7 linked regions of the Homo sapiens genome follow. The protein of the gene in region 3 interacts with the protein of the main gene of each other region in a biochemical or structural test. Each region holds a gene or a part of one and is shown on either strand. Other genes may lie near its edges.

Evidence for each region.
Region 1: of the proteins of FAM20C (region 3) and ALB, one has a biochemical effect on the other in vitro, tested with the Homo sapiens proteins (one large-scale study listed by IntAct).
Region 2: of the proteins of FAM20C (region 3) and SPARCL1, one has a biochemical effect on the other in vitro, tested with the Homo sapiens proteins (one large-scale study listed by IntAct).
Region 4: of the proteins of FAM20C (region 3) and APOL1, one has a biochemical effect on the other in vitro, tested with the Homo sapiens proteins (one large-scale study listed by IntAct).
Region 5: of the proteins of FAM20C (region 3) and CSN2, one has a biochemical effect on the other in vitro, tested with the Homo sapiens proteins (one large-scale study listed by IntAct).
Region 6: of the proteins of FAM20C (region 3) and SPP2, one has a biochemical effect on the other in vitro, tested with the Homo sapiens proteins (one large-scale study listed by IntAct).
Region 7: of the proteins of FAM20C (region 3) and VCAN, one has a biochemical effect on the other in vitro, tested with the Homo sapiens proteins (one large-scale study listed by IntAct).

What each region holds. Positions count from the first base shown.
Region 1 is NC_000004.12:73,402,366-73,407,416, reverse strand, and holds the start of ALB (albumin preproprotein), read right to left. Parts: upstream 3,131-5,051; 5' UTR 3,090-3,130; coding exon 3,011-3,089; intron 2,302-3,010; coding exon 2,244-2,301; intron 789-2,243; coding exon 656-788; intron 1-655. UniProt on the Homo sapiens protein: Binds water, Ca(2+), Na(+), K(+), fatty acids, hormones, bilirubin and drugs. Its main function is the regulation of the colloidal osmotic pressure of blood. Major zinc transporter in plasma, typically binds about 80% of all plasma zinc.
Region 2 is NC_000004.12:87,480,321-87,484,575, reverse strand, and holds part of SPARCL1 (SPARC-like protein 1 isoform 1 precursor), read left to right. Parts: intron 1-2,015; coding exon 2,016-2,152; intron 2,153-4,055; coding exon 4,056-4,204; intron 4,205-4,255.
Region 3 is NC_000007.14:258,323-261,779, forward strand, and holds the end of FAM20C (extracellular serine/threonine protein kinase FAM20C precursor), read left to right. Parts: intron 1-323; coding exon 324-383; intron 384-1,408; coding exon 1,409-1,658; 3' UTR 1,659-2,450; downstream 2,451-3,457. UniProt on the Homo sapiens protein: Golgi serine/threonine protein kinase that phosphorylates secretory pathway proteins within Ser-x-Glu/pSer motifs and plays a key role in biomineralization of bones and teeth.
Region 4 is NC_000022.11:36,265,010-36,268,211, reverse strand, and holds the end of APOL1 (apolipoprotein L1 isoform a precursor), read right to left. Parts: intron 3,062-3,202; coding exon 2,179-3,061; 3' UTR 687-2,178; downstream 1-686. UniProt on the Homo sapiens protein: May play a role in lipid exchange and transport throughout the body. May participate in reverse cholesterol transport from peripheral cells to the liver.
Region 5 is NC_000004.12:69,959,084-69,963,338, forward strand, and holds part of CSN2 (beta-casein isoform 1 precursor), read right to left. Parts: intron 1,925-4,255; 5' UTR 1,913-1,924; coding exon 1,862-1,912; intron 997-1,861; coding exon 970-996; intron 1-969. UniProt on the Homo sapiens protein: Important role in determination of the surface properties of the casein micelles.
Region 6 is NC_000002.12:234,063,842-234,068,096, reverse strand, and holds part of SPP2 (secreted phosphoprotein 24 precursor), read right to left. Parts: intron 1,565-4,255; coding exon 1,510-1,564; intron 874-1,509; coding exon 823-873; intron 1-822. UniProt on the Homo sapiens protein: Could coordinate an aspect of bone turnover.
Region 7 is NC_000005.10:83,540,978-83,545,232, reverse strand, and holds part of VCAN (versican core protein isoform 1 precursor), read right to left. Parts: coding exon 2,965-4,255; intron 1-2,964. UniProt on the Homo sapiens protein: May play a role in intercellular signaling and in connecting cells with the extracellular matrix. May take part in the regulation of cell motility, growth and differentiation. Binds hyaluronic acid.

The sequences.
Region 1 (5,051 bases), on a different chromosome or scaffold from region 3:
TGGTTGGACTTTGAATGCACTATGCTAAGGGAAATAAGTCAGTCATAAAAAGATAAACAGTACATAATACCACTTATATAAGGTAGCTAAAGTAGTCAAACTCATAGAATCAAAGAGTATAATGCTGGTTGCCAGTGGCTGGGGGAGGACGAAACGAGGGGTTACTAATCAATGGGCACAAAGTTTTAATACAGCAAGATGAGTAAGCTATACAACAGTGTACCCGTAGTTAACAATAATGGATTGTACACTTAAAAATATAACAGGGTAGATCTCATGTTAAGGGTTCTTACTATAATAAAATAAGATAAATAAATAAATAAATACATGCTATCATATCCCTATTAGCCTCTACAAAAAGAAACCAAACCTCAAATTTTAAAAAGAGGTGTTTATAAATGACAAATTGCCATTTAAATACACCATGACTGTTGTGTTTGGTCTCAATAAAGAAATGATTTTAAAACTGTGGACATAGCTAAAGCATCTCTATCACAAAAGAAACAATGGCTTATCAGTCTATGAGCAACTTTTTAGTGTTTCTTACAAATCAGGACACTTAATAATAATTGAGAAAACTTAAAAAAAATTCCTTTGAAATGCTTGGGATTACTTCAAACAGAAGAAAGAATCTCCACAATTAGAATGTACTTACAAGTGATTTGTCACAATTTTCAGCTGACTCATCAGCAACACATGTTTTTGCAAATTCAGTTACTTCATTCACTAATTTTACATGATCTTCAAATGGACACTGCTGAAGATACTGAGCAAAGGCAATCAACACCCTGAAACAAAGGATGTAGAAAAATGTAGTATAATAAAACTTTAATATGTAACAGGTTGCTACGCTAGAGAACAAATCATGTATGGGTATAGGTTCTATCTTTTATACATCTTCTTCACCATTATCCAGAAAGCCTATTCATATCAGGTATGATCTGAGGCCTAGATAGGCATATGTGGCTTCCTACGCAAAGAGAATGGTAGTTCCCTAATGTTTATATGTATGCGTGTGTCAGTAGATCTATGCACACACATAGATTAAGCAAGCAAATTGTATGCCAAATAGATCTAATTGTCAAGACTAGGCATTTTTAAAGTCCTTAGAATTACTTAAAACTAAAACAAACCCCACAGATTTCCTTTTTCTTTTTTGAGACAGAGTCTCACTCTGTCACCCAGGCTGGAGTGCAGTGGCACAATCATGGCTCACTGTAGCCTTGACCTCTCAGGTCCAAACGATCCTCCTACGTCAGCCTCCTAAGTAGCTAGGACTACAGGCATGTGCCACCATGCCTAATTTTTTTGTTTGTTTGTTTTGTTTTTTTTAAAGAGACTTGCCCAGGCTGGTCTTGAACTCCTGGGCTCAAGCAATCCTCCTGCATCAGCCTTCCAAAGTGCTGGGATTACAGGTGTGAACCACCGCACCTGATCCCCACACACGTCTTTAATTAGCCTGTAGGATTAGGTAGACTTTTAAAAAAACAATTTTCTCATTTTTTACTAGATTAAAAAACATTTAAATAGGCCGGGCGCGGTGGCTCACTCCTGTAATCCCAGCACTTTGGGAGGCCGAGGTGGGCAGATCACGATGTCAGGAGATTGAGACCATCCTGGCACACGGTGAAACCCCATCTCTACTAAAAATACAAAAGATTAGCCGGGCGTGATGGCGGGCGCCTGTAGTCCCAGCTACTCGGGAGGCTGAGGCAGGAGAATGGCGTGAACCCGGGAGGCGGAGTTTGCAGTGAGCCGAGATTGCGCCACTGCACTCCAGCCTGGGCGACAGAGCGAGACCCTGTCTTAAAAAAAAAAAAAAATTAAATATTCCCAACTAAGCACAGGAATGCTTGCTATGTAAAGAAGATTTAGTGGGTAAGCCACCAAAGGAAACCTATATTAAAGTCCTTTCCACCAAGCAAGTTCCAGAGCTGTACTGTCCAATACAGTAGCCATTAGCCACATGTGACTATATACATTCAAATTAACTACAATTAAATACAATTTAAGTTTTTGTTTCTCAGTTGCACTTGTCATATTTGAAGTACTCAATAGCCATGTGACCAGTGACTACCTTATTGGATAGCCCAGATACAGAATATCTTCCTCAACGCAGAAAACTCTACGAGGCAGCACTGTTTTAGAATCTGAACCCTGATGACAAGGAAATATAAGCACTTTAGAATAATAAACAACACTATTAGAAACATTAAATTTGATTCATCAATATTTTAACTTACAAGGCTTTGAAATTTTCTTCTCCCAAATCTTTAAACCGATGAGCAACCTCACTCTTGTCTGGGCAAGGGAAGAAAAAAAAGGATTGTTAAATACTGAAGAAAACAAGAAGTAATAATGTTACTTTTTATATTTCTTTCCATTTGACTTAGATTATGCATTTGTTTCAAAATATTGGGCTCTGATTCCTACAGAAAAACTCAGGATGATGTTCAATTATTTCTTCTGCCTTTAAACAGAAGAATAATTCAATTACCAAGAATACTATTTTAAAAATTATTAAATATTTATAGCCTTATATTCAAACTTAGATAATATCTAATACTCTTTTAGTGTCTATCAACAGCAACCAAGAAGACAGACTAAAATGAAAATAAATATAAATACAAGTTCTATTTATGAGATCAACAGCACAGGTTTTGTGGTTTTTAAATAAAGCATAGTGCAATGGATAGGTCTTTGGGATAGTTATGAATTCAATCTTCAACCCTATTCTGTGAAGTTTCAGTCACTCTAAGTTACTTTGCACTTTCCTTAGTGCGCAAAAGAAAATTACAGTCACTAAACAATTCTGACCTTTTTTTTTTTTTACCTAGGATGTTTGAATTTTATTAATAAGATAACCTTGTAAGACTTCACAAATACAAAATACTATGCCATTTTAGAAATAAATGCCAAAATAATTCTTTAAAGATGCAGAGTTTACTAAAACTTTATTTTACTGGGAAAATAGAATAAAAGTTGAACAATAGAAAAATGGATTTCTTACGTGCATCTCGACGAAACACACCCCTGGAATAAGCCGAGCTAAAGAGAAAAAGAAGGGAAATAAAGGTTACCCACTTCATTGTGCCAAAGGCGTGTGGGGTTGACAGAAGAGAAAAGCTAGGACAAACGGAGGGAAATTAGCACTAATATACTTCTTTAACCAATAATTGTAGATTATTAACTAGACTCATCTTTGTATTTCATTGGCTGCCAACCGATTACAAAATTCATAATATTCTTGCCAAAAAATTGTTTGACTAAATCCCTTGTGTATATTTACCATCTGGAACTGTTTTCTCCACAAGACCTTGTCAATGTATTAAAGTTGTGTAAAACATCTTATCAAATTTTACATAAGAGTTTAAACGATTTGTACCTTTTATTCATTACCATGGTATTTAACTGTAATTTCCCACTTGAACATTTTAGTTCTTGGTGTTTGCAATTTAGTTCTCAGTGTTTAGTAATTACTAACCAAACTAAATACTTTGCTTAGAAATAAGACATACTGAAAGAGTTAAGTCCCAAATTGCATCTATTGCTAATTCCAAGTGTGCTTTTACCTATAGATAATGAAAAATTTACACACAAGTACTCACGCATGCACACACACATATACATACATACATATTTTAGGGCTTCTGTGTCTTTTTTACTATTCCAAAGCCATTCTGTCTGAAAAAGCTGATGTTGCCTCAGATGCAAACTAAGAAAAAGACATAGCAACAATAACAAGTAAGATAGGACTTAGAAATTCCATGTTCCCATTCCTGCTGTGGCCCACATGTGATTCAAGCCCTGAGATAGGCTATTTAGATTCAGTGTGAGTATATCTCATGGGATCTTCAGTTAAGCAGAGATGGAGAGGAAAATGGACCCAAATGAGATGATGATTATCTTTGCCATAATATACAATAGGACAGGCTGACCCCAAATTCTCTGTAGGTTATGAGAACCCTTGACCTTCACCAGGCATAGGATTCTTTCCATCCCTGTTTCATATTTTTTTCCTTTCTCTCTTTCAATAAGTAGAAAAATCACATGTTCTTTTATGTTGCTTTAAATTTCAAAATAAATTTAACATTATGTCTAAAAACAAAGCGAAGGAAGAATAATTTTTTAAATATTTCATAAATCTTCCTTCCCTACCCAAGGTTCTTATCTCTACCTCAGAAAAGCTATCCTACCTCTGCCCTTTTGCTCAGAATATGAAGAACTACTGAGCTCAACCAGTAGGAAGAACAACTTTCTCTGATACTACAGAACAATAATTAGTACTAAGCCAGTTATTTTACTTAATTAAATAACTCAGTCAGTCAAAACCAGTAGTCAAATTTCCTCATGGCACATAGAGGCACAGAGACTAACAAAGTATTATTTTTTCTACTCAGTCTTATAATGAAAGAAAATTTTTTCTATTCAGTCTTACAATGAAAGAAATTATTTTCTATAATCTTATGTTATTTCTTCTTCAGAAATGGGTACTAATTAACTAATAAAGCACAGAAGAGGAAAAAATCAAAGCTAGATGGATGATAGATACATAGATAGATAGGAAGATTTTTTTTAATGACTCAAGGGAGTCCTGAAAGGAAATACCAGACTTGTCTTTCTGACTACAGATGAACAGACATAAAACAAGTGTGCCTATTTTCCATTGAAGAAAAACAAGCATTTTTTCTAAAGCCAGAAAAACCTACATCTGAAAAGAAAAAAGAAACTATTCTAAGTTAAGAAAATAATTCTTTCTTGGATAAATTATGTCAACTTTTAACTTCCTAGAAATTGTAGGCATTATTTATTAGAAGTCAGTAACCAACTCTAGCTTTTTCCTTGTAGAAGTCCCTGGGAAAGGCCTACCCAAACATAAAATCCTTACTGTTGAATACAATTGTTACTAATTGACAAATTCAGGCCTTTGTCACTCTCACATATACTTTGTGCATACTTTTTCATTTAACAAATGAAAAGAATAATATTAGTCCATTTAGTTTTCACCACAACATTATAATGTAATATATTGTTAAATACAAAGAAACCTA
Region 2 (4,255 bases), on a different chromosome or scaffold from region 3:
AAAAAAGAGCCCATATATCCAAGACAATCCTAAGCAAAAACAACAAAGCTGGAGGCATCACGCTAACTAACTTCAAACTATACTACAAGGCTACAGTAACTAAAACAGCATTGTACTGGTATCAAAACAGATATATAGACCAATGGAACAGAGCAGATGGCTCAGAAATAATGCCACACATATACAGCCATCTGATATTTGACAAACCTGACAAAAATAAGCAATGGGGAAAGGATTCCTTATTTAATAAATGGTGCTGGGAAAACTGGCTAGCCATATGCAGAAAACTGAAACTGGATCCCTTCCTTACACTTCATACAAAAATTAACTCAAGATGGATTAAAGACTTAAACATAAGACCTAAAACCATAAAAACCCTAGAAGAAAACTTAGGCAATACCATTCAGGACATAGGCATGGGCAAAGGCTTCATGACTAAAACACCAAAAGCAATGGCAACAAAAGCCAAAATTGATTAATGGGATCTAATTAAACTAAAGAGCTTCTGCACAGCAAAAGAAACTATCATCAGAGTAAACAGGCAACCTACAGAATGGGAGAAAATTTTTGCAATCTGTCAATCTAACTAAGGGCTTATACCCAGAATCTACAAGGAACAGATACAAATTTACAAGAAAAAAACAACCCCATCAAAAAGTGGGTGAAGGATATGAACAGACACTTCTCAAAAAGAAGACATTTATGCAGCCAAAAAACATATGAAAAAAAGCTCATAATCACTCGTCATTAGAGAAATGCAAATCAAAACCACAATGAGATACCATCTCTCACCAGTTAGAATGGCGATCATTAAAAAGTCAGGAAACAACAGATACTGGAGAGGATGTGAAGAAATAGGAACGCTTTCATATTGTTGGTGGGAGTAAATTAGTTCAATCATTGTGGAAGACAGTGTGGCAATTCCTCAAGGATCTAGAACTACAAATACCATTTGATACAGCAATCCCATTACTGGGTATATACCCAAAGGGTTACAAATCATTCTACTATAAAGATGCATTCACACATATGTTTATTACAGCACTGTTCACAATAGTAAAGACTTGGAACCAACCAAAATGCCCATCAGTGATAGACTGGATAAAGAAAATATGACACATATACACCATGGAATACTATGCAGCCATAAAAAAGGATAAGTTCATGTCCTTTGCAGAGACATGGATGAAGCTGGAAACCATCATTCTCAGCAAACTAACACAGGAACAGAAAACCAAACACTGCATGTTCTCACTCATAAGTGGGAGTTGAACAGTGAAAACACATGGACACAGGGAGGGGAACATCATATACCAGGGCCTGTCAGGGGCTGGGGGACTAGGAGAGGGATAGCATTAGGAGAAATACCTAATGTAGATGATGGGTTGATGGGTGCAGCAAACCACTATGGCATGTGTATACCTATGTAACAAACCTGCACATTCTGCACATGTATCTCAGAACTTAAAGTATAATTAAAAAAAAAAAAAAACGGCAGTGATCCTGAGCTCTGGGGAGACTGCAATGAGCAGAGCCCTCCTGCCAACTTGTATTGGACTTGTAGCAGGATTGCAAAATTGACTTCTGTTTCTTTAAGCCACTGAGATTTAGCATTATTTCTTACTGTAGTATCAGCTAATAGCTACCTTTTTCTCTATTCAATAGCACTTGTGCCCTCCACCTACAAATTTCAACTCTGATTCTACAGCAGTGATTCTGGGGCCTAGCTGCACATCCAAATAGATCTTGGAGCTTTAAAAACATCCTGATGCCCAGACTTCACGCCAGACCAATCACATCAGAATTTACTTGATTGGAAGCTGGCATTTGGTATGTTTTTTAAAACCCCAGGCAATTTTGTTGTGCTGCTGCCAGGGCTGAGGACCACTGTCATAATAATGGGGACCTGAGAAAGCTCTGTCAGTTGCCAGAAGTCGTTAAGCTTCCTATTATGAGGACTTGCCATAGGACACAAATAAGCCCAAAGATTACAGTACATTTTCTGCTTGTAACAGCTATTCCTACTTGTACGGACTTTGAAGTGATTCAGTTTCCTCTACGGATGAGAGACTGGCTCAAGAATATCCTCATGCAGCTTTATGAAGCCAACTCTGAACACGCTGGTTATCTAAATGAGAAGCAGAGAAATAAAGTAAGTTATCCACAGGTTAGCTTCTTCAATGTCTGTCTACAGGGCATGAGGAAGAAAGACGTGGTGGGGGGGCTACCTACCTCTGCATACTGGCAAAAGCCCACTATGCTTCCCCATGCCCGGTTAGCCCATGTGGCTTAACAGAATAATAGATGTCACCATTCACGCCACAAGGTTTCAGACACCACCAAACCGCCCCATTCTTCCCAATGGTCAGTGGCCTGAATTAGGGCTCTTCAATTCCTACCTAGAGCAAGCTCTGGTTGAGCAAAGTTAATATAAATTTAGCATTGATCTAGTCAGTCCAAACATCTTATTTAAATCTAAGCATTTGTTTTGTTCTCATAGGCCAGACATAGATGTATGATATAAAGTAAATCCATTACTCAAAATATCAGTAATATATTAAGATTAAAAAGCACAGAACATTGATTCCAAAAGCTTCCAGAGAAAATTCATTCACCAGATAGTTATTGAGTGTATCCTGGGTGCCAGAAATTGACCTAAATACTGGAGATACAGCAACGAAAAGAAAATCTCTGCCTTCATGAGTTTACATTCTGGGTGAAGAGACAGACTCTAAACAAATAAGTATATATGTGTGTGTGTATGTAATGTTTGTATATGCATATATTTGTACATACATATATATGCATATATGCAATTATATATAGTAAAATGAGCATTTATGTAAATATAACCAAATCAGCAAATATATGTATAAGTATGTCAGTTGGGATTAAACATGGTGTGAAGACAAATAAAACAAGAAGGAGGGTGTGCATTAACTGTGTCAGATGCTGTTTATAGGTTATGAGTTGAAGACTGAGAATTGGCCAGGGATTTAGCATGTCAAAGTCATAGCTGACCTTGATAGGAACTGTTCCTGGGGTGGGAGCATGTTTCAGGAGGGAAGCTCCAGTGGACAGAGTTCAACAGAGACTAGGAGGAATGGATGCAGCAAGTATAGACAATCCTTTCAAGGAGTTTTGCTATGAAGAGATAAAGAGAAATGGGGTGGCAGCTGGAGTGGAAAGTGAGTACAAGAGTCCCACCTAGCAGTGGGAGATGGTAGAGGATGTTTGCACGCTTCTGGAAATAACCCAGTCAAGAAGGAAATGTTAGTGGGGAGCAGAGAATGCGCACAACTGCCAGAGGGCGTTCTTCGATACATGTCCCACCCAGAGGAGAGGGATTGGACTTAGGTTAGGAGCACAGGAAGGTCGCAGGGAGCAAAGTTGTGGTTCTGGGAGCAGGTGGAGGTCCTGTTTGCTTCCAATTACTCAGTGAAATAAGAGGCAACATCACAAGCTGAGAGTTTCACAGGCACTGCTCAAGAATAATTTCTAGCCCCCGTCTTGAATACCTTGTCACAGAGAGCCTTGAGGGTATTAGCTATGAAACAGGGAAATTTCAATGGGGCTGGCCAAGCAATAACACACCAGGGTGAAAGCAAGACTGAGTGGGCACTGGATGGATGACCTAGAAGACTAAGAGTGGACTCTGTCATCGGGGGAAGGAGCAGCACTTTTCACTAACTAATCACCTTAGTCAATTCAGCCCTTTTCATTAAAACCTCATAGTTTAAAAAAAAAAAAAAAAAGCAGCGAACATTACTTGGTTAAAAGAAAGAGGCAAAACATACTTAAAATATTTAAAAGTTTAAAAAAGAATTTAAATTTCTTCTAAAAACCAGAGGTTTCTTACATCAGGTGCTATTCTGTGTAGACATGAGAAAGGCCTGTAGTATTGATTGGAAGGAATTTCATTTAGTTGCACATGATGTCCTGAGCTTGTTTTCCCCTATCGTGTTACTGTCACTCTTCAAGTAAAGTTTATAGCAAGTGACAAGTCCATTACATTTGTCTGATTCTCTGACAGTCTTCTGCCTTCCTAATCCCAGGTCAAGAAAATTTACCTGGATGAAAAGAGGCTTTTGGCTGGGGACCATCCCATTGATCTTCTCTTAAGGGACTTTAAGAAAAACTACCACATGTATGTGTATCCTGTGCACTGGCAGTTTAGTGAACTTGACCAACACCCTATGGATAGGTAAGAACTCTTTACCTTTCCATTTCTAGATTTATCTCTCTGATAAAATAT
Region 3 (3,457 bases):
CGGGGTGCTGGAGATGGGCAGGGTGGACCCACTGCCTGAGGTGCTGGAGATGGGCAGGGTGGACCCACTGCCCGGGATGCTGGAGATGGGTGGGGTGGACCCACTGCCTGGGGTGCTGGAGATGGGTGGGATGGACCCACTGCCTGGGGTGCTGGAGATGGGTGGGATGGACCCACTGCCCGGGGTGCTGGAGATGGGCTGGGTGGACCCACTGCCTGGGGTGTCGGGTACAGGCAGGTGGACCCATGGCCCAGCTCCCAGCCCAGCAGCCTGTTAGGAACCTTGTACAGGGGCCCTTGACAATTCTGCTTTTCTTCTGGAAGGTTTGGGAAGTATTCGCACGACGAGCTCTCCATCCTGGTGCCGCTACAGCAGTGCTGCAGGTACAGCCCCTGCCGGAGCCGGCTCCAGCTCCACCCTCCTCCCTACTGCGCAGGAGACAGAGGAGGCCACAGCCTTCCCCACCCCACCCCGGCCATCACATGGGAGAGAAAAGGCCCCGAATTCAACCACAGCCCTGAATTCAACCCACACCCTCACTCGGCGGCCTGGAGGCGCAGACCTCACCCGCCCACCACCCCAGGCCCATCCAGCTCGAGCCCCCTCGGGCCTCCACTCTGTGTCCGTCCTGCCACCCCAGTTACAGAGAGAGCTCGAGGCCAGGGCAGACGCCAGCTGAGACACAGGGACCCTGCTCCCGCACGCAGCTGCCGGTCTCTGCCACTGCCACCTTCTGCGGGGGTTCAGACCCCCTTTCCCCCGTTTCATGGCTGGGGACGCAGGCTTGCAGGGCAAACGCTTTGTACTTCTCTAAGGAGGCATCACAGCGCCCGTGTTGTGCGGATGTGCTGAGCTGGGGTCGGTCTCCTGGGTGAGTGGGCCGCCCTCCTCACCTCCCCATCCTCCTGGGTGAGCGGGCCGCCCTCCTCACCTCCCCATCCTCCTGCCGGGCCCCTCTGGGAAATACACCGGCCACCACATCCTGCAAGGGCACCCTCATCCCTTGTGCAGGTGAGAGGCGGCAGACCACGCCGAAGCAGGTCACACAGCCCGGAGGCTGATGAGGTGTTGGATCGCAGGCCCCTCTCTCGCGGTCTCTCTCGTCTCTGCCGTCTCTATCTGTGTCTGTCTCTGTCTCTCTCTCTGTCTCGGTCTGCCTGTTTCTCTTTATCTGTGTCTCTTTCTGTCTGTCTGTCTCTGTCTGTCTGCCTTTCTCTCTCCCTCTCTTTCTCTCTGTGTCTCTCTTTCTCTGTGTATGTCTCTGTCTTTTTCTCTCTGTCTCTGTCCCCCTCTTTCTCTCTCTGTCTCTCCCCCCACTCTCTCGATCTCCCTCTCACTTTCTCTCGCTTTCCCGTGGGCAGGCATCTCCCCTGTCCCGTGCCAGGCCTGATGCCCCTCTCCTCCCCAGGATCCGGAAGTCCACCTACCTGCGTCTGCAGCTCCTGGCCAAGGAGGAGTACAAGCTGAGCCTGCTGATGGCCGAGTCTCTGCGGGGGGACCAGGTGGCACCCGTGCTGTACCAGCCGCACCTGGAGGCCCTGGACCGGCGGCTCCGCGTCGTGCTAAAGGCCGTCCGGGACTGCGTGGAGAGGAACGGGCTCCACAGCGTGGTGGATGACGACCTGGACACTGAGCACAGAGCCGCCTCGGCGAGGTAGTGTCCGCCGGCCGCTGCGCTGCCCGGGACGGAGACAGAGGCGCCGGACCTCCCAGCAAGCGCATGCGCCCGTCGTGAATTCAGTGAATTCAGAGGCAGGACGGGATCATCCGGAGTCGGGAGCTGCTGCCACAGGAGGCGAGGCTCCCCAGGTCTCATAGGACACATTTTGTCAGTGTTTGACCAGAAAAGCTTGGGAAGGAAGCGCTGTCTGTGCTCACGGACAGAGGCGGCCGGCGCCGGAGGCATTCCATCCTTTCTGTAGGGAAAGGAGCCTTTATTTACTATTTTGTATTTATATTTGATGAATAAGTATATAAACAGAGACGTGTACACAGATGCCAATCACCTACCAAACCAAACACGAGGACCGCCCTCCCTGGTTCTGGGGGCCCCTCAAGGCCAAGCTCACCCCTCAAGTGCTCTCACACTCGGGACCTAATTCAAGTAAAAACCCTTTCTCCTTCCTGGGGCCTCGGCTCCTGGAGGGCTGGAGGGTCTCGTCTGAGGACGGGAGGAGGCTCTCGCTGGACGTCTGGCCTGTGCGCTGGTGGACGGATGCCTACGTGGTTTTGGAGGACCCGATGACCAGGCGTCCTGCGAGTCCGCCCGCTGGCCTGCAGCACCCACCTCGGACTTGGCTGTGGACGGTTGGTGCAAGTGCATCCTGCAGGGCTGGCTGTGCGCAGCTGTGGGCTGACCTTTGCAGAGTTTTGTGGAATAGTTTGCAATGTCATAAAAGTGCAATAAAGGTACAGCAGATGTGTGTCGGCCTCACGGGGCGGGTCCCTCACACCCTGGTGTGTGGCTGCCTGTCCACCCCCTCTCCAAAGAAAAACCAGTCCTGGAACCAGGCATGGCCAGGAGTCGGCATTCAAGGTGGCCTGGACCCGAGGCCTGCTGGGGTCGGAGGGGGCTGCCTGCCAAGCCCTGGTGCAAACAGGCCAGGTGGGGCCCCACCTCCAAGGCAGGGCGGTCCGTCCTGGGTTGCTCTCAGAGGCTGGGGCCGCGACCCAAAGCTGCGGCGGCCCCGAGGGCAGCCCCTGTCTGTAGCCCTGGCATGGGCAGCTTCCAGTGTTCCAGCAGGACTGGGCAGCCATGCGTGGGGCAGCTGCCCCGGGGCTGTGGTGAGTGAGGGGCACCGTGAAGGGTGCCAGCCCCTTCCCACTGCTGGCCTCGGGGCTGCAGAGATGGGGCTGGGCTCCCAGGCCAGCATCTCCCCTGCTGGCACCATGTGAGGGGCAGAGGCAGGAGCCAGCATGCTGGCTACCACCTGCCCAGCGTCACACGGCCCAGGAGCCCTAAGAAATCAGCTGTGGGGCCGGTCACTGTGGCCCCCTCTTCTAAGAGCCTCTGCATCCACTCACCTGTCCGTTCCACAAAGTCCCTGACACCCATTTGAGCTGTGCCAGGCTGGGTGCAGCGGGGCCTGAGAGACTCAGCTCTGTCCTCATCACCGCCGCCTTGCAGAGCAGCGGGAGACGCACAGTAAATGCACAGATGGGTCACAAACAGGGCCCTGCACATGGCAAGGAAGTCGGCAAGGGCAGAGGATGCGCCAGGCAGACATTGCGTGTGGGGCAGCCAGGGAGGTGCTGTGGCCCCTTCATCCACTGGCTGGAGCCGGCCCCCCCATGTCTCTCTCTGTTTGGGACTGAACCAAAAGAGGTGATTAAGTGGCGGGAGGGTTCGGGTGGTCCCGGTCCAATCTGACAAGAGCCCTTATGAGGAGAGGAGACACAGGGACGGCCCCGTGAGGACACGGAGAGGATGACATCCACGAGCCACAGAGAGGCCTGG
Region 4 (3,202 bases), on a different chromosome or scaffold from region 3:
GGAAACCACACCTGTGCTCAGCCAGAGCCAGACATGTACAAGCTTTCTGTGGGTGCCCCAGTGGGGTTGGTGGGGTTTTGAGGTCTCAGGGAAATGACCAGCTGGGAAAGTGAGAGTCCAGTGAGCAAGCAGGAGGGGCCATGGAAGCCTCGTTTCCCGAGACCCTGGAAGAAGGATCATGAGGAAGGGAAGTCAGGCACCCAGAGCCCAGGGGAGCCTCCATCGGCACCACAAAGGCACAGCCATCAGTCAGTGCTGATTGGACCCAAGTCTCCAGGACACAAGATGGGGAGAGCTGGGTGGACCTGAGACATCACCTTGTCCAGGTACCCTTCTACAGCTGATGAGGAAACTGAGGCTCAGAGAGGCGAGGTCTCGTGACCACAAGCGGGGTTGAACTCCTGGACACACCTCAAGGTTCCTTGACCTGTTCCTGGCATCTCCTTTCATTTTTCCTTTCTTCCCAAATTAACCTCTTTCCAACACAGCACTTCAAGTTCCCCTGGAACTTCATCGGTCCATCGGTGTCCCCTGGTCTGGAAGAGCACCGACCACTTGCCAAGGCCCCCACCACTCTGCTGCCATCACAACCACCATCACCACCATTACGAGAAAAACTTGAGACTGATGGCCCCCAAAGCTTGGAAAGAGCTGAGAGACCAAAGAATGACTCGAACAAGTCCAGCTTGATGAGTAGGTGAGTTTATTGGGACTTACACACAGGTCAATCCTGGGCGGCGACAAGACAGCTCTAGAGATCTGAGCTTCCTCCCAATGCTAAACTGCTTTCATGCTAATTTTCTGACTGTTTACTTACCGGGTAAGAGCGATGGGACTGTTTTCATTGGTTGGTTCTCACATACTCTCTGGGAAGTTTGGGTTCTCAGGGACACCTGCTCCTCAGCTGGGGACCATGGCCATGGCCCACCACCTGCCCTTCAGTGTTCAAGCAGGGGACATGCACCCTTTAGTAACCTGGAGGGGACCCATCACATGACAACCACCCCAATGACCATCATCAGGAAGCCGCTGCCTGACTGAGATATGCCCCCAGGAGGACAAGGGAGAGTGGATGCTGGAAAGACAGGGCAGGGGACCATCACCAGGGAAAGACTTCATTCTTCGGAGGACATTGAACCTGGGGCTGGGTCTGTAGTGGAGCCGCTGTTTCTTCTCCTGTATCCAACTGTTCTAACTCTTGGGCTTTCTCCATTTTCAGCTCTTTCTTTTCCTGGCCTTCTCATTGCTGGTTCCTTCAAGCCTCCTCTCTATTCTTCCGTCAATATATTCTTTTTTTTTTTTTTTTTGAGATGGAGTCTCGCTCTGTCACCCAGGCTGGAGTGCAGTGGCGATATCTCGGCTCACTGCAAGCTCCACCTCCCAGGTTCACGCCATTCTCCTGCCTCAGCCGCCCAGTTAGCTGGAACTACAGGCGCCCGCCACCATGCCCGGCTAATTTTTTGTATTTTTAGTAGAGACGGGGTTTCACTGTGTTAGCCAGGATGGTCTCGATCTCCTGACCTCGTGATCCGCCCGCCTTGGCCTCCCAAAGTGCTCGGATTACAGGCATGAGCCACTACACCCGGCCCCCCAATATATTCTTTAGTCTAAAGTAAACTGCTTCTTCCCATTCCCCACACTCTCCAGTTCCCATTTTTCCCTTATTGCAGGCTCCAATGTTCCTGCCTTCTCCTTGCTGCACTGCCATCTGCATTAACCCCTCCCCTGCTGTGCTCAGCTATGGAAATGCCAAAGTCCCTAACACTCAGTTCCATAAACTTTACCTCACCCTCTTTATCCCCCTAATAAAATGTTTGCATTTGGGTCAAAAGCGATGGCTCACGCCTGTAATCCCAGCACTTTGGGAGGCCAAGGTGGGCAGATCAAGAGGTCAGGAGATCGAGACCATCCTGGCCAACATGGTGAAACCCCATCTCTATTAAAAATACAAAAATTAGCTGGGCATGGTGGTAGGCGCCTGTAGTCCCAGCTACTTGGGAGGCCAAGGCAGGAGAATCGCTTGAACACGGGAGGCAGAGCTTGCAGTGAGCTGAGATCGCACCATTGCACTCCAACTTGGCGACAGAGCAAGACTCTGTCTCAGAAAAAAAAAAAAGTTTGCATTTTGTCCTGGCCCCTGCCAGGCATATCTCTCCTGGTGGCTGCCCTGCCCTGTGGTCACAGTTCTTGGTCCGCCTGCAGAATCTTATAATTATTGTTGAGAATGTTTAGCTTCTCCTCCAGCTCCTGAGCCACCTTCTTCAGCTCCTCAGCTGTCTCTGACTTTGCCCCCTCATGTAAGTGCTTTGATTCGTACACGAGGTAGACTACATCCAGCACAAGAAAGAAGCTTACAGGGGCCACATCCGTGAGCTTGACTCCTCTGCTCATTTCCAGGATGCTGGGTTCATTAACCCTCTCCACCTGTTCACCGCTTTCAGCTGAGATTGGCTCAGTGACCCGGGGGCGTGAGGCTGAGGCATGCGGTACTGACTGAAGATTGGCTCTGGCTCGTCTGAGGGCACGGATGTCCTTCCCAATGCCTCGTGTGAGTTGGTAAGTATTGCCAGCTAAGGAAAGAAAGTTGGATATGTTCTCACCCAAAAACTCCCTCACCTCCTTCAATTTGTCAAGGCTTTTGATGACCAGGTCGTGGGCTTGGGCTTGTGTCCACCACTTCTTTCCGTAGTCCATGGTACTGCTGGTAATCCCGGTCAAAGCGGCTGTGATTCCCAACTCCATCCCAGGTTCCAAGAGTACAAGGCTGCCTCCCTCTGTGAAGGGTGCCAGACCCATGCCGACGAGGGTCAGGATGCCAGAGGAAATGCTGAGAGAGCCAGACACCACATTGGCGATGGTGGTGCCTTTGTGGACCTTCTGAACCCCATCTGCAAGGGCACGGAGCCTTCTTATGTTATCCTCAAGCTCACTTTTCAACCGAGGAAACTCTTTCAGAAACCAGTTTCTGTACTGCTGGCCTTTATCGTGCCAGTTTTTGTCTTTCATGATCATTTGTCTTGCAAGGTTGTCCAGAGCTTTACGGAGCTCATCTGCCTCATTCCTGCACAAGGAAAGGTTAAAGGATTAAGAAATGCAGTTTTGGCTCGGTGTGGTGGCTCACACCTGTAATCCCAGCACTTTGGGAGGCCAAGGCGGGTGGATCACAAGGTCAGGAGATTGAGACCATCCTGACTAATACGGT
Region 5 (4,255 bases), on a different chromosome or scaffold from region 3:
AAAATAAAATTAGGTTTAGTTTTAACAATTCTTACTTTGCAATATAAATCAGGAAATAAAGGCATTAATTCTTTGATAATATCATTAATAACTTTGTATAATCATTAAACTTATGTATTAAACTGTTCTATATGAGCTTGTTATGTAAAAGAAAGTCAGATGAATGCAGTCAAGAAGGACATGGTACAAAAAAAAGCAATTAATAGATGCTAATTTCTCTCTACCACCATGCTCATTCCCTGACAACAAATGATATCTAAAACCCCATCTGATTTTTAAAAAAAGAAATACTCATTGAAAATATATTCTAATAACAATTGATACATTATGATCACTTCAAATGAATCATAAGAGTTAAACACTTCCCTTAAGGATCATATAACCTTTCTGAAGAGACAGAATCTATTGATGTACCATTTACTTATCAAGTGATCACACACCCAAGAAGAGTGGTGTAAGAATAAATATCTACCTGACTCTCTCAGGTAAATTTAGGACTACACTAAATCTCGCTTATTTACTAAAGTGGCTATTGTAATTATAAAATGTGTCCTTTTTGCACGTCTGCCTACCTACTACTTAGCAAGCTCTTAACTATCACTGGCATCTCTAACTTTTCAGTTTGTACCACAGCTCCTAGTCAATGTCTGACCCATAGAAGGCCGTCAGTATATGCTTAAGGTGAATAAGTTCAGAGTAAAGAGAGTTCAAGGCAGAAAACAGGACAATATGGTTCATTAAAAAAAAAAGAAGCAAAATAACACAATTTCAAGTAGCAAGCCAATTTACAAAGTTCTAGAATGTTGTATTATCCAGATACTTATTGTCCTTAAACACACATAAAAGAAATATGTACTAGAACTTATATGTCATTAACATAGCTGCATTAGCTTAACTGCCATGATGTAACACCATAGAAAAATAGCACAGGATTTTACTGTTCTAAAATTGGGTAGAATGTTAACTTACCTCACTGCTTGAAAGGCTTTCTATGGTCTGTGGGAAAAAAAAATTGACAACCAGCTAAATCTTCTAGATCATTAGAGAATTTTACTATTTTATGGTTCATAAATTTTCTCTAAAAAAATAATCTCACCTCAGAGGATGCATTGGATTGTTCCTTCTGAAAAGATGTTTAAAAATTCAACTTCTATAGCTAACTCATTGTTAAACATGCATCCTACTTAATTTTTACATCACTTATGCAGAGCTATCTCTTTCACAAATTTGAGAAATAAAAAATGTTATATGACTTTTGAGGTTTAAAAGGTAATTACTTTAATGTCTTTTATATTTAGTAATCTATTAATATATTTTTATCTTACATTTATTAAAGACAGAGTTTTTTATGGGTAAAAGAAGAGTCACTTTAATTTGTATTAAATATTTTTATTATATTATTATTAATATATTTATGATCATGATTATGATTGTCTCTGTACTTCATCCCATGGATGTCTTTGTACAGACAGACACAGGATTTGACCCAGTGCCCTAGGCTGTAAGGTATATATACATTTTATCACTGGAATAAGATATATTTATCTAGCTTGAGAATCTTTGGAGTTGTATTTATGCAATATTATATTTCGTTGCCATTTTTATGATTTTTTATTACTTATTGATTTGTTTGCTTTTTCTTTAGTGACTAGCAGCACATTGGTGCAGGAAGCATTTGGGGCACTATAGGAAACTGTTGAGACAGTGGGTAAATATAAATGATTTTGATAGAAGCCAAGAGAATTCTCATGAAATTCTTCATTATTTATACAGTAAAAAATGTTGGTGATGTTATTCTCTACAAATAAGCATATAGTCCACTATTTATTGATTGTTTAGGAATTTTTTCTTGTGCACATACCTCCCTTGCAAGAGCAAGAGCCACCAGGCAGGCGAGGATGAGGACCTTCATGGCTACTAAGTCCTGTGAATGTAGAAAAAATGGAATGGTGGAAGATTGGTCAATTGGATATACTTTCTTATGTAGGTAAGGTTACTTTTTATAAAACAAAAAAAAAAGAGAGATAATATATAACAAAAATATCTGCATTTAGAAAATAAATAGAATAAATACTAAATAGAAGTTATATCACATGAAGGAGGTCAAAATCCATTCTGGCTTGCGATTCTCATTTTTCAAATTCCAAACTTCATTGCCAGCTATTCAGATTTTTCAGCTAACAACTCTATCCCCACTTTTAAAAAAGTCCCATTTACAGTATTGAATTTTTCAAAAGGCATAAAGAAGTTATAAATATGTATGGAAAGATTTATGCAACACATCAAAAAGCTTATCCACCATGATCAAGTGGGCTTCATCCCTGGGATGCAAGGCTGGTTCAACATACGAAAATCAATAAATGTAATCCAGCATATAAACAAAACCAAAGACAAAAACCACATGATTATCTCAATAGATGCAGAAAAGGCCTTTGACAAAATTCAACAACACTTCATGCTAAAAACTCTCAATAATTTAGGTATTGATGGGACATATCTCAAAATAATAAGAGCTATCTATGACAAACCCACTGCCAATATCATACTGAATGGACAAAAACTGGAAGCATTCCCGTTAAAAATTGGCACAAGACAGGGATGCCCTCTCTCACCACTCCTATTCAACATAGTGTTGGAAGTTCTGGCCAGGGCAATTAGGCAGGAGAAGGAAATAAAGGTCATTCAATTAGGAAAAGAGGAAGTCAAATTGTCCCTGTTTGCAGATGACATGACTGTGTATCTAGAAAACCCCATCGTCTCAGCCCAAAGTCTCCTTAAGCTGATAAGCAACTTCAGCAAAGTCTCAGGATACAAAATCAATGTGCAAAAATCACAAGCATTCATATACACCAATAACAGACAAACAGAGAGCCAAATCATGAGTGAACTCCCATTCAAAATTGCTTCAAAGAGAATAAAATCCCTAGGAATCCAACTTACAAGGGATGAGAAGGACCTCTCCAAGGAGAACTACAAACCACTGCTCAAGGAAATAAAAGAGGATACAAACAAATGGAAGAACATTCCATGCTCATGGGTAGGAAGAATCAATATCATGAAAATGGCCATACTGCCCAAGGTAATTTATAGATTCAATGCCATCCCCATTAAGCTACCAATGACTTTCTTCACAGAATTGAAAAAAACTACTTTAAAGTTCATATGGAACCAAAAAAGAGGCCACATTGCCAAGTAAATCCTAAGCCAAAAGAACAAAGCTGGAGGCATCATGCTACCTGACTTCAAACTATACTACAAGGCTACAGTAACCAAAACAGCATGGTACTTGGTACCAAAACTGATACCAAGACCAATGGAACAGGAAAGAGCCCTCAGAAATAATGCCGCATGTCTACAACTATCTGATCTTTGACAAAGCTGACAAAAACAAGCAATGGGGAAAGGATTCCCTATTTAATAAATGGTGCTGGGAAAACTGGCTAGCCATATGTAGAAAGCTGAAACCGGGTCCCTTCCTTACACCTTATACAAAAATTAATTCAAGGTGGATTAAAGACTTACATGTCAGACCTAAAACCATAAAAACCCTAGAAGAAAACCTAGGCAATACCATTCAGGACATAGGCATGGGCAAGGACTTCATGTGTAAAAGACCAAAAGCAATGGCAACAAAAGCCAAAATTGACAAATGGGATCTAATTAAACTAAAGAACTTCTGCACAGCAAAAGAAACTACCATCAGAGTGAACAGGCAACCTGCAGAATGAGAGAAAATTTTTGCAATCTACTCATCTGACAAAGGGCTAATATCCAGAATCTACAATGAACTCCAACAAATTTACAAGAAAAAAACAAACAACCCCATCAAAAAGTGGGCAAAGGATATGAACAAACACTTCTCAAAAGAAGACATTTATACAGCCAAAAATCACATGAAAAAATGCTCATCATCACTGGCCATCAGAGAAATGCAAATCAAAACCACAATGAGATACCATCTCACACCAGTTAGAATGGCGATCATTAAAAAGTCAGGAAACAACAGGTGCTGGAGAGGATGTGGAGAAATAGGAACACTTTTACACTGTTGGTGGGACTGTAAACTAGTTCAACCATTGTGGAAGTCAGTGTGGCGATTCCTCAGGGATCTAGAGCTAGGAATACCATTTGACCTAGCCATCCCATTACTGGGTATATACCCAAAGGATTATAAATCATGCTGCTATAAAGACACATACACATGTATGTTTATTGCGGCACTATTCACAATAGCAAAGACTTGGAACCAACCCAA
Region 6 (4,255 bases), on a different chromosome or scaffold from region 3:
ACAGGAGAGGGACAAAATAACTTTGTTTCATCCATTTGGTGAGAAATTTGGTTGAGTATGGCAAAAAGAAGATCATTAGACACATTGTATGCCTGTATCAAAATATCTCATGTACCCCATAAATGTATATACCTCCTATGTACCCATAAAAATTAAATTTTTTAGTTTAAAAAAACAAGATTATATTAGAGTTCATGCTACTTTTTAAATGCTCCAGAGAGTGTCAGAAAAAAAAAATGGTGAATGCTTATTTCCTGAGCCAGATTTGATATTTTGATTCTTGGTAACTTTTTTTTTTTTTTTTTTTTTTTTTTTTTTTGAGACGGAGTCTGGCCTCTGTCGCCCAGGTTGGAGTGCAGTGGCGCAATCTCGGCTCACTGCAAGCTCCGCCTCCCGGGTTCACGCCATTCTCCTGCCTTAGCCTCCCGAGTAGCTGGGACTACAGGCGCCCACCACTACGCCCGGCTAATTTGTTGTATTTTTAGTAGAGACGGGGTTTCACCATGTTAGCCAGGATGGTCTCGATCTCCTGACTTCGTGATCCGCCCGCCTCGGCCTCCCAAAGTGCTGGGATTACAGGCGTGAGCCACCGCGCCCGGCCTCTTGGTAACTTTTAAGTCAGTTAGTGCCTCAAGGCTACCTTTTTAATGATTTGCAAAGCAAGTTTATACATTACTATTCTTTTCCTTTTTTACTTAAAATATTTTGTATTTCAGAGATTTAACTCCTATGAAACAGGAAACAGCTATGAAATAGGATTTCTCAGGAGTCCAGATTGATCAGAAAAGGGTCTGGTGGCACAGCAGGAAAGAAATCACTTACCAAGTGACCGATCATAAAATTGTTCACTTATGGACTCGTCTGAAATGAGACCTGTAACACAGTAATAATCATAAGACAAGACTCCTCTCACTGTTCCAGAATGTTCTATGACTTTACTGTTAATGCCACAAATATGCTTCTTAAGCAAAGAAGCAGTGAGAGATCACCATTGAGTTTTATTGCCGTCAGCACTAATAGGAAAAATGCCTCCTAAATCATAGAACACTAACCCAACCCACTTTGTATTAAAAGCCACACAAGAAAAGAAAGAAGGAGAGCCCTTCCTCCCTGAACTAAGACATTCAAAGAGATGATCAGATCTAGTTGTATGGCTGAAAGACGATAGAATTCAGACTGTTTACTCCTGATCCTCCCAGCTAGACATTCTTAAGGGGAAAACCAACACTGGCTCCGCTTACTTGGCAGAGATGTTGGGGCCATCAAATGGAATTATGTATGGAAAAGCTCTGTTGTGAATACAAAGGAATATCTAAGTGAATAGTTGTATCATTATTACCTAGTGATAAAAAATAAGCAAAAGCAAAACAAAATGTTAATTTTCTATGGCTGTAATTGTTGCAAGATTACATACATATGTATTTCTAGTTTTAAATGACTCACTAACAAAGAGTTGCAATATGGAGTTATTTTAAGAAAAAAAGTTAAAAAGAACAGATCTTAACTTACCAAATAGATAATTGTTTCTCCATTTATGAGATCCCAACATGTCCCCAAAAATCATCTAAAGAAATTCAGGCATCAGGATGTGTCAGCACATGAAAGAAAGAAAAAGGAAAGACACTGAAAAATGTAAATGTCATCTGGAAGACTCTGATATATGTTATATAATCCATTTTTAATGAAATAGGCAATACGTTATATTAAATAACTTTATATATATCAAACATATAAGTCTAAAAAAGCACATGGGGAAGAGCAAACTACGTGAAGTTTAAATTACCCACAGATCTTTCCCCTAGACTGAGAATGTACTCCCAAACATTGCCGGCTTCCAGAAAAGCAAAACCCTGTTACACAGACTTGCACACAGACTAAGTTTAGATCGAATTTTAGAGGTTTCTCTCTATAAAGTCACTGTAATATGTTCAGTAGGAAAAGGTGTCCACAAGAAGTTTTCATGAAACCACTAAAAGTCCATGCAATCATCACAAAGTAAAGTGGTTGCTTGGCTCGCAGTCTTTCTACCAAGAGTCTTGGTAGGCTGTCCTCCCTGTCCTGAACAGTCAGGTAATTTCTTGGCCTCCATCACAGTAGTTGGACTGGGAAGGGACACATACCAAGACAATTTAAGAGAGAAAGAACATTCTTTTCAACAGATAGTGCTGATACTACCAGATATGCACATGCAAAAGAATGAAGTCAAACCCCTTCCTCACAACATATGCAAAAATCAAGTCAACATGGATCATAGACCTAATGTAAGACTACAGAAACAACAAAACAAAAAATAGATAAACTGGAGTTCATCAAAATTTAATTTTGCTCTTCAAAGGGCACCATCAAGAAAGTAAAAGACAACCCATAGAGGGGGAGAAAATATTTCAAAACAACTAAATAAAAAGACAAATAGTGCAATTAAATCATAGGCAAGGATTTGAATAGACATTTCTTCAAAGAAGATGTATAATGGCCAATCATTAGTCGTTAGAAAAATGTAAATTAAAACCACAATGAGAGCTAGGCACAGTGGTTCATGCCTGTAATCCCAGCACTTTGGGAGGCAAGGCAGGCAGACTAGCTGAGGCCAGGAGTTGGAGACCAGGCAGGCCAACATGGCAAAACCCCGTCTCTACTAAAAATACAAAAATTAGCCATGCATGGTGGCACGCACGTGTAGTCCCAGCTTCTTGGGAGGCTGAGGCACTACAATTGCTTGAACCCAGGAGACAGAGGTTATAGTGAGCCGAGATTGTGCCACCGCACTCCAGACTGAGTGACAGAGTGAGACTCTGTCAACAACAACAAAAAAAACTACAATGAGATACCACGTCACACTCACTAGAATGGCTAAAATAAAAAAGACAGGCACCAACAAGAACTGACAAAAATGTATAGAAACTGAAATCCTCATACATTACTGGTGGGAATGTAAAATGGTACAGCTGCTATGGAAATAATGTGGCAGTTCCTCAAAAAGTTAAACATAAAGTCACTATACGGTCATTAAACATAGAGTTACTATATGATCCAGGAATTCTGTTTCCAAGAGAATTAAATACATGTGTACACAAAAACTTGCACATGAATGCTTCTAGCCTCATTATCTATGATAGCCAAAAAGGGAGAAATAAGCAAAATGTCGATCAATGAATGAATGGATCAATCAAATGTGGCTCTGTAAAACGGAACAATACAAAGGAATGAAGCATTGATGCATGCTACAACATGGATAAACCTCCAGAACATTATGCTAAGTGAAACAAGTCAGTCACAAAAGAATACAGGCTGTACGATTCCATTTGTATGAAATGATCAGAATGGACAAATCCATAGACACACAAAGTAGATTAGTGGTTGCCAAGTGTTAGGAGGAATGAGGAATAGAGAACAACTGTTACTGGGGTCTCTCTCCCGCGTGATAAAAGTGTTCTGGATTTAAATGGTGGTGGCAGTTGTGAATATGCTAGAAACCACTGAACTGTACATATTAAAAGGGTGAATTCTATGGTATGTAAATTATATCTCCACCAAAATGTATTTTTAAAGGGGGGTATCAAAACATCACATTGTACACAAGTAAATATATAAAATTTAAAATAAATTAATAATAAAGTTATATGTATAAAAGAACAAAAAGAGGGGACACCTAAGCCAGGCCAATAGAGGGAATACCAAGAGGTTTCTCTAACTGGCAGCAGAGAGAAATGCCTCTTTTCCCTCCTAAGTACAGAGGACATAAGTCTGGAGTAGCTTGAGGCTTTACTTCCTGCTGCAAGGGGAAAGCCTCTCTGCAGCAAGGGTGGACGTGGAGTGCAGAAGGCACAGTGACAGAGAGAGAGAGAGAGACAGAGGAAGGAGGAGAAGATGGAGGAGGCTCAGAGAAGGAAGGAGAAGGAGAGGGAGAGGGAGGAGGAAAGGGAGGAAGAGAGAGAGAGAAAAGGGAATGAGGGGGAGAAGGAAGAGGGAGGGGCAGAGGGGAGGGGAGGCCAGGAGAGAAGGGGAAGGAGAAGAATGTGGCACATACAGGACTGAAGGACTCTAAGTCGAGTTGTCCCTGAAGCCAACTTCTCTCCTTCCTTTCTGGGAATGTGATCCAGGGAATTACCTCTTTTTGGCTTAGACTACTTCTAGTTGAATATCTATCTTTTGAAATGAAAGGCAGTAAATAAATTAAATGCCCGTCACCCCTCCCGTAAGCTCAGAATTCCTGTCATCATTCTTCTTCAGTTTCTCTCTCTTATTTTGGGTCTCG
Region 7 (4,255 bases), on a different chromosome or scaffold from region 3:
AATTGATTTTAGTCAAAAATGATTACACATATGTGCACAGTGAATGGAAAATGTATTCTTTTAAATGGGGTTAGTTCATGTGAAATGGCTGGATACACAGAACATGCATTCTTTTTAGCAGGTTGGCTTGTTATCATCATTTGAATTATTATTGCCTTTTACCACTTAATGCTCAGAAACTGTTTTTCTTCGAAAGTGTGCACTGAAGTCTCTTCTGCTACATTAACATGCTTTTTCCAAAAACACGTTCCAAATGTACTCCTTTAAACTATACTTGAAGAAAAGCAACACATGGATTAAACTCTACTGTAGAAAAACAAACCCAAATACAAAAACCTCACCTAAAATGAAACCCCAAGTTTTTATTATAATTTTCTTATTAAAATACAAATAAAACCGACACTCCTGGGAGATAAATATGAAGGCCGAAGACATAAATTTATGAGGACAAACAGTTTAAATATATTTTCTAAGTGCAAACACTTTTACACCACTTGAAGCATATATTTTATATTGCAATATTGCTTGGATAAGTGTATTTTCATTGAGTTTATACTTATTCTTTGTATATTGTTTCAGACTTGCTTACATTTCTAAATCTTCAAAGATCCAAATGAGAGTTGAAAGTTTTACAAAATAATTGAAATAAAATAGATTATCTATGGAATACACCCATACTTTCAAGAATCTTAAGTCCTGAAACCCTGAAATAATTACACATGAAAGAAGAAAGATGTCTAACTTCTTATGAAACATTAGCTTAAAGAATATCAGGATAAACAAGGTACTGCTATAAAAGATAACTGAGACTTCCCCACACCAGAAAGTCAAACTCAAACTTTCTGAGTGTTAAGTAAATTCTGAATGACTATAAACCTGGATAGGTACACATTCCCATGTTTGGGATTCACGTTAAAATTAGGTTAATTCAGATGAGTACATCAACTTCTCCAAAAACTCCCCCGAGTTTTCTAAGACACTTTTTCCTATAGTTCCAAAACTATTTGAAATCTCCCTAACAATTTTAGCTTTCTGAATTTTAAAGTACAAGTACGCTCGCTGCCAGGATGACAAGGCTGCAGTTAACACACGCCATAGCCACATGCTGCCCTCTGTGCTGAATCCAAATGACACTAGGTGAAAGTGCTTTATCAGACTGTGATGTGCCACACAAATGTGAAGAAGTACTATTACTATTCCTACCACTGACACTAGACACCATGCTGAGACCATGAAACAAGGACTGAGTGAGTGAGTCTTCCTGTGAACTGGAAGTCGTTCCAATTAACAGGAAACTTCAGTTTTTATGAATGTTATTCTCCCCTAAACAGTTCGTATTAACCTCTGAAAGTTGAATCTGCAACAGATAGACCAGGTAATCCCATATGAGCTGCTGTTTACTGAATTAAGCTAAAGTGACCATTTGTTTTGCAATGAAGACGCAAACTATAAATCTTGGTAAATATTGTAAACTGGAAAATTGGTACATATTTCTCATTCATCAAACTTAACTCTATATGTACCTAGTTATTACCAGTTATTTTTACATCATATTTTTAACAAACTGAAGTATATTAAACTAAATTAAAAAACAATAAATATTAGCCAAATTACTAGATTATCATTTACAGATTTAACACACAGTGATAACAAAAAACCCAATGTCAACTACCTTTGATCAATTTTCCTCAAAATATTTCAAGCCATTTATTAAAAATTGTACTTTCTATTTTACTCTTTCTGAAGCACATCAAAATAAAGCATTGGTGGCACAAAAGGTAATATTGATATGATCAGAAGAATAATTTTAACGATAGTCATGGCATAAAACATATTAAAATAAAACATATATTCTCAACCAAGACAGACATTAAAGTACTGATTTTTCTTCCTCTTTTTGCAGGTAGCAGCTAGGTGGTGATGTCTATTTGTGGATTCCACTGACATTGTTAATTTAAATAATAACATTATGGGAAAACACCATTAGAGCTGATTTCTTAACATTCTCAGGCTAGATTAAGAGGAAAATAAATTCTACAAAGTAAATATTCCAAGATTCCTGGTTCATATATTATTCAATATCAATTGTTTATTTTTATACTATACTGAAACCAGCAAAGAGCAGTGAAAAGACTATGGACTTTAGAGTGGAGCTAAGCTGGGTTCAAATCCTACTTTTACCACAATGTGGCTGTGCCACCTTGGGCAAGTTGCTGAACCTCTCTGAACCTTCACCTCTTACCCTTTCACACAGGGCTTTTATAGCCTTTTCGTGGCAATCAGAAGAGATGGCTTATATGAATCAGTATCAAATTCATGCTTTCCATACATTCAGTAAATACACAGAAAACTTCTCTCAACAGGCAGTATGTTTATATAATAAATGACTACTCACTACTGGTAGGCACTGTGTTTGATGCATTATGTAGACTGTCTTAAACAAGGACATTGCATATAAGTATGAGCTGATATTGATACTGCACAAACTCTGAAATAATTATTAGAGCTACGTACTACTCCCAAATGTTAAAGGCCTGACAGATTTTGATACTACAGCAATAGCATCCATCAATGGGAGGGTTTTTAAAAATAGGACTTTTTTTCTACTTTTAAACCTAACATGTATAACTATGAGACATATGACAAAGCAATACTCTAGTTGTGAGTAAAAACAAATTGAATTTTTATAACATTAATAATTTCATCTTTTCCATGTTGTAATTGTATATTATTTCTAAAACCCAGAAAAATACAAAGTCTACTTCTAAAGTCCAAAACTAATCTATACTTACTGTCATTTCATCTCATTATGAACTCAATACTGTGGCCTGGCCTGCTGTTATGTGAATAATATGAAACTCTCCATTGATTTAACATCACAATAAAAATTACATACATATAAACGTTAGCACCAAGGGACTGTTTCCAGGTTTGGAAACAGATTTATCAATGTTGTGATCTTACCTGGTAAATAGATTGCCGTGCCTTCCACTGACTCTTCATTAATGCCAATCAGGAAATCTGTTTCATTAGAAGTCTCCAGAAGGGAAAATGGTGGTGTTGCAACCTCAGTATTAAATTCCACAGGGTTTACTGTTGCCTGATCATTGGAATCAAGAATTCTCGCTGCCACTTGCTGTTCTGATGCTGCTATCGTGGAATCCTGCCCTCTGATTAAAGCTGCTTGAGTTTCAGGGTTTATTTCTGGAGAAGAAGAAAGCGTGGGCCTCTCAGAAGTCTGTGGACTTAGCCAAGGCACCACACCTGCCTCGACCCCATAGGTGGCAGAAGCAGAAGTAGAGTGTGGCCACTGTGTAGCACCTTCTAATTCAATTTCATCGGCAGTTGTAATAACAGTTCCAGCCTCAGGTGTTTTAATGGTGGGAAACATCTTGATTGCTTCTCCAGAAACTTGACCATCGGTTTTGTTTTGGAAATCTTGGAGAATCTCAGTTCCTTCCACAGCAATAAGTTCTGTGGGAGAAGCTTCCATTTCTTCTAATAACTCAGGTTTACCATCATCTTCTGAAGGTTCTAATTTTGTGTCAGGAGATAAAGAGGGAGGCTCAGTTATGTGAAGGTATTCCTCACTTGATGGTTTGAAAGTCGCTTCAATATTTACATGAATTTCCTTAAAAGAATCCTGTGGGGACATTACAGATGAGCCGACGTCTATTCCTGGCAGAGCACTGGGCTGGGGGATCTCTGTGTGTCCAGAGGCTTCACTGCCTGAGTAGATAGTGAGGGGAGATGATGGTGTCTGAGAAGACAACTTCGCAAATGTTGAAACTGCTAATGTTGTATCAGTGTAATATGGGGGATTGGATCCTTCCATCACATCAGGCACCTCTGTTACACTCTGATCCATAAGGTGGGTAGTAGCAATACTTAGATAGGGAGTATGGTCTACTAATGCCTCCTCAGCTCCTGAAGAGAATTCTGGCTGAAAAGAAGGACCAGCATGTTTTTTGTCTTCATACTCCTCCTGAGTCCTTTCAAATTGGCCCAATGTTGGTATTATTTCACTTTGGTCTGCAATAGCTTGACCATCAGACAAAGTGCTTGATTCAAACATGTCATCCAGGGCTTTTGCTTCAGCTTTTATTCCTTCAATCTCTGGAATAACTGTGGCAGACTTACGAGGAATTGGCAGGGATGTTGCCGTGGGAAGTAAAACGTCTAATTCTGTTTCTGTGCTAGGAGCAGGGATCCCAGTTGTGAAGTGAAAGCCCATGTGATCTAGTTGGCTTCTATC